Linked DNA regions of Homo sapiens: region 2 is linked to region 1. Evidence: fine-mapped expression QTL. A gene starts in region 1. The other region holds a variant in brackets. All regions are shown on one strand. Distances are between the middles of the regions.

Region 1 (2,916 bases):
CTTCCAGTTGAGTTGGGCCAATGGGAAGCCCTGGCAGGAGATCAGAAGAGAGCTGGGTTCAGGTTATTTATTACCTCAGCTTCCTTTGTGCTGGACTATGGCTTGGATGTAGCCCTCAACTGAAAGCCACAGTTTCTCTCAGATGGCCTGCTCCTAGGGGTGAGAATAGCTTCTAAATTTTGCTAGCCATGGGATTCTGCACCACTCCGTGTTGCATTTCCTTAACCCTGTCCACTTTGTGTAAATCGCCCCTTGTGAACTCTCCCCACTTACCTTGTTTGAATGTGCCATCTGTTTCTCTATCACCTTGTCACCATCTTCCTGGTGTTCAGGATCTATTCTCTGTTTCCATCTTTGGTGACTGGGGCATTAAAAAGGGGTGGATCAGATGAGTAAAGCAAAGCCTCAGGGCACAGATGGGCATCATCAATGCCCATCTGAAAGATCAATCGTCAACATGTTGCAGCCTGCCACTAGGAAGCACAAACCAGAGGACTACCAGGACAGCAGCTTGTAGCATGCCCTCCAATGGCAGCAGATGGCCTTATGGCTTTGGCTGTGCACCCTCAAGGTTCTCTGGCACTGGCAATAGATGACATTTGCTCCTACAGGGGGTGGGCAACCTCTCCAGGTTGCTTCACCTCCTCTTCAAGCAGCCCCTCCACCCCCTACCCCCAACCTACTCCTCCCAGATTCCACATATTATTGGGCAATGGCATCATTGTTCACTCACCAGGCGAGCCTAGTTAGAATTCACCCACAGGAGAAAACGAGTGAAGGCCGTGGGAAGCTAAAGTATGGTGCACCTCTGAGCTGGCTATGAACAAGTATTCCTGGGTATGGTGATGATGGGGATGAGCTCGTCTTGGAAAGGCAGGAGTTCTGGCACCTAGCTTCCCGTAGGATCTGGTTCCCCTCTTTGAAGTGTACCCAGGCGAAGAATGAGTGGCTCCCTTAACCCCTTCTCCTGGCCAGGACCAGTCTGCTAGATACTGCTGGCCCTATTTTCACCCCTAGCTTTGGATCCCTTTCTTCCCTGGAGGGAAAGAGGCCTTCAGGGCAGCCCCGCAGACACGACAGGAGGGATGCAAGAAAACAGGCGCGGCTGGGCATCCGAGCGTGGAAGGGAAATGTCCAACTGAGGGAGGTGAGGGATGTTGGACAAGCCCCGCCGCCCGCCGCACCGGAGCCGGAGAGAAGCAGAGACGTTGGGCCTCCCAGTTTCCTAGAGAGGCCGCGGAGGGCCCCGGGCGCCGACGCGCGTGCGCGACTGGAGCCGCCGGGAGGTAGGCGCGGGACGGGCGGCTGCGGTGGCGGCGGGTGGACCGATTGTCGCTCGGCGGCGGGAGTCGGTGAGAGGCCTGGCGGGGCGCGGGGGTGGGGGTGGCGGCATTGCGGGCGCGGGGCTCCCCGAAGTCCGCGGCATTCTCGGGCCTGCCCGGGCGGCGGACGGGGCCCGGCCTGGAGGCTGCGCCCGTGGCGGGGGTCTGGCGGTGGATCCCGCCCCCGCCACGCTGAGGGCGTATCTAGAACCTCTTTGCCTCCCAGGCGTCCGGGGTAGAGAATCTGGAGCCCGGGTTTCTCCGGGCTTTCTCGTTTCATCCAATTCTGCATATAAAGCGTATTTATCAGAGACAATTAGATAACACGGGAAAGTAGAAGAAAAGTAAAAGTAGCCGCAATCCTGAAATCTGTCTCCAGGCCTCCTGACATTTAAAATATCTGTGCATAATTCTGCACACTGACATCCATAAATATATATTACGAAATGAGAGCGTGCTCTTGCTTTTTAAAAAACCTGTTAGTATTATTGTGAGGAAACAATATTGTGCCAAAATAACACATAACATTTACCATACAATACATAAACGTTTACCATTTAACCATTTGGAAGTGTGTAATTCAGTGACATTAAGTATATCCATACTACTGCTTTTTAAAAATTATAATCTCCTGAATTTGTAGAATGCATTTGTTCTTATTTTGGCTAAAATTAGTGCTGGCATTATGACACCACTAAAACATTTTTTTTTTGGCGAGGATAATTAAGAAATCGTGTTTGCAGTTTATTTTCTGTAGGAGACACATTTGCATGAAGCTCTAAATGGTGAAGTGACATTTGTGCAGAAAAATAGCAAAATCTTGTTTGTCAGGGTGGTTATCTTTCACAATGAAGTAACTAGTATATAAAATGCAGTTTTTAAACAAAGGCAGAGCTCTAACCTGCAGCGATTGTAGCACACTCTGACTTGCACAGGCCTAAGAGATCAGAGTATTGTCTCCTTCCGAATTTAAAAGTGGTGGCCAGGAAAGAATGTTATTCTGTTTCAAACGGCTTGTAGTGCAAAACTAAAAACTCAGTATTAGGTTGGTTGTTTTGCAAGGAAGTGCCAGGGAGTGGTTTGAGCAGTAATTTGATTAAGCAGTTTCAGAGAGCCTCCATGTGTTGTGTGTGTGTCTGCGTGTGTGTGTGTGCATGCATGTGTGTGCATATTCAGGGACCAAAGAATTAGGCTGCTCTTTTATGTTATCTTAATGAAAGGCAGACACATTTTGGTTAGAAAAAAAAAAAAGTCTTACTGTAAGCCGAAAAGATGAGAATGTTTTGAAGATAAACCTCAGTATGCACTTAAAAAGGAAACTGACAAAAAGCATGAAAAATGGCAAGTATTCCACCGCTAGGTTTTCTCTGGCTTCCGGTATCCAGGAAGAATTAGTGCATAAGCAGTCTACGATGTCAGAGAGTAAACTATAGTAAAACATAACACTGTATTTTGCAATTTTCAAGATTTTGTATTAGAAACAATGTGAAAGAGTACATTTCTGTGACTCTCAGGCGAATTGTTAGGTGTTCTGTAAGATTGAATTTATGAATTTCTTTTTTTCCTTCCTATTCTTAAATTTATTTTCTTTTTC
Region 2 (2,916 bases), 56 kb before region 1:
ACTCCACTGCTTCAAGGGAGTGTTACCTCCTTGAGCAACTGTGGAATTCTGCTGAGTGGTTATGCTGTCGGGGCATAAAGACATGAAGGCAATAAGAAGACTTTTCTCCTCAGAGGCCGCCCATGGCTCCCCTTGGGTGTCTCACACAGGGAAGACCAACTCAGCTGGCACCGCAGAAACTCTCTTTCCCACAGTGATCAGTATAGCTGCCCAAAAGATACTGTGGATGGAAGGGCCAGCTGCCACATACCCTCCTGATGGAAGTACCGAGTACATTGGCCTGAGACTGGAGTCCTCTCCAATAGCCCACTGTCCAGCCCCTGGCCTTACCAACGCTCAGGACAGATTAGAAATGGACCGTAAGTCAACAGCACCCTCCTTTCCTCAACTTGCCACTTGGGTGGGCATTAGCTCATCCAGAGAATTTGATTTGGCAGATACCATGCTTCTTTTATATCATTTCTTTGCCACCTAATTTGTACTTATGATTGTAGAAATATAAGAAAATATAAAGAAGTAAAAGAAGAAAATAAAAAGAAATTATATTTCAAAGATAACCAGTTAAGCTTTGGTCTTTTTTAAATAGACATTTAAATTAAGGAGTAGTGCTAAAAAAAATACATAGAAGCACATACTTTTTTTCCTTACAAAACCAGATGGTGGGAGAAATGAAGCTCTGCAGGGCATTAGGTCAGATCTTCCTTTCACTTTATTGTAGAGTAGCCTCCACTGCAGGGAGAGAATTCAGCCTGGCACGTCACCTCATGCTATCCAGTGAACCCTGCCCCTCACAGAACACAATTCTGGTCACTCTGGGTGACAGAAGGGGACTTGTAGTCAGTTTCAGCTGCAGAAGGGGTTACTAGCCATGTATAGAACTTTTTTAATTCCAAGAAGTTATGATTTTTAGAATAACTCTAAACAGGCTGGGCGTGGTGGCTCACACTTGTAATCCCAGCATTTTGGGAGGTCAAGGTTGGCAGATCACCTGAGGTCAGGCATTTGAGACCAGCCTGGCCAACATGGTGTAACCTCGTCTCTACTGAAAGTACAAAAATTAGCTGGGCGTGGAGGTGCAGGCTTATAATCCCAGCTACTTGGGAGGCCGAGGCAGGAGAATCACTTGAACCTGGGAGGTGGAGATTGCAGTGAGCTGAGATCATGCCACTGCACTCCAGCCTGGGTGACAGAGCAACACTCCGTCTAAAAAAAAAAAAAAGAATAAACCTAAATATAATCCTAATGTTATACACCTTCCTGTCACCTTCCATCTTGGTGTGCACTTAACACCCCTGAACAGGTTTGACCAGCTCCTTAGAACCATAGTAAAAGACTTTACAATTTGAGAAGGGAACATGAAGAAAAATTTAATCTCATTTATCAAAGTAATACATATTAATCCTGAAAAAATAATTCAGAAATACAGAGGGTAAAAGCAGTCATTCTACTTTTGCATTTAAAAAGTTCTTTGTTGTTTTGGGTTTCCCTAGTATGTTTCTAAGGGGTGTGGGTTGGCTTCACACTCGTCTCTTTCTTTTTGTAGACCCATTTGCCTTATATATTTTAAAGCTGTGCTGATAGGTTCAGGGTGCATGTAAGTTTATGACAAATCATTCAATAGTTACGGAACGGTTGCTGTACACCAGGCACTGTC[C/T]AGGGTCCTGAAAAGAGTCAAGAACAGGATAGAACAGGCTAGAAGCGCCATCTAGTGGATGGTACTTGTTTTATACAAAATTTAGCCGGGTGTGGTGGCGCACGCCTGTAATCCCAGCTACTTGGGAGGCTGAGGCAGGAGAATTGCTTGAACGCTGAAGGCGGAGGTTGCAGTGAGCCGAGATCGCACCACTGCACTCCAGCCAGGGCGACAGAGCAAGACTCCGTCTCAAAAAAACAAAAAAGAAATAAATTGGACTATTTGAAGGAGAATCCTTAGTGTTCCCCCCTACCCCCATTTGCTCTCGCTGTCTCTGAGACAGGGTCTCACTCTGTCGCCCAGGCTGGAGTGAAGTGGTGTGATCATAGCTCACTGCATCCTTGACCTCCTGGGCTCAAGCTGTCTTCCCTCCTCAGCTTTCTGAGTAGCTGGGACTATAGGTGTGTGTCACCACGTCCAGCTGATTTTTATATTGTTTTTTTGTAGAGACAGGGGTCTCACTATGTTGCCCAGGCTGGTCTCAAACTTCTGGCCTCAAGTAATCCTCCTGCCTCAGCCTCCCAAAGTGCTGGGATTACAGGCACGAGCCACCGTGCCCAGCCTCTCAGTTCTCTGTTTTCATCATAATTCAACATTTCACAGATTAGTGTTAGTAGTCTATGTCATAAGAAGTTTATTTATAAAGGTAACAAATAGGTTGAAAGATAATTACAGTAATTCTTATGCTCCTATATTAACAAGTATTGAAAAACTTCACCCTCCTTTCTTAGGGGGTGCCATTTAAACTAACAGATGAATTTTAAAGGACTGCTATACCCCTGAAGGTGTGAGAAAGGAGCATTCTATGCAGTGGGAAAAGTTGCTGCAAAGGCTCAAGATGTAACTGATTGGGCTGATCAGGTGACAGAAGGGAGGCCACTGTGCCTGGATGAGAGTCACAGTGTCAGAGGTGCAGTCAGAGTTGGGCAGAGGCCTGCCTGCGGAAGACCATGTTGGCCAGGTTAACCAATTTGAAGTTGCTTGGGGGAGATTAATTTCAGTGTCAGGAGGCCAGTTAGAGCACCATTGCAGGACTACATTTGAGAGAAGATGGTGGCCAGGACTAGGGATGATGTGCTGTGGAGATGGAAAGAAATGGGTGGATTTACAATGCATTTTGGAAGAAGAATAAACTGGACTTGCTGATGTTTTAGATGTGAGAGGGTGGAGAATTAAGAGCAACTTCTAGACTGGGCGTGGTGGTTCATGCCTGTAATCCCAGC

The links.
Region 2: its variant is fine-mapped to the expression of ZNF445 in whole blood (TOPMed, PIP 0.96).

What each region holds. Positions count from the first base shown.
Region 1 is chr3:44,476,027-44,478,942 of GRCh38, reverse strand. It overlaps ZNF445 (zinc finger protein 445), which reads left to right and starts at 1,273. Exons shown (of 8, transcript NM_181489.6): 1 at 1,273-1,352. LOC101928529 (a long non-coding RNA gene) reads right to left here and starts at 1,253. Exons shown (of 4, transcript XR_940785.4): 1 at 734-1,253; 2 at 274-361. RefSeq lists silencers at 1,296-1,455, 1,476-1,525.
Region 2 is chr3:44,531,766-44,534,681 of GRCh38, reverse strand. No RefSeq gene overlaps it. Among named protein-coding and RNA genes, the nearest start is that of ZKSCAN7, 22 kb to the left of the region's middle. RefSeq lists silencers at 1,511-1,805, 1,697-1,825. The variant C/T (reference allele first, on the strand shown) is at 1,655.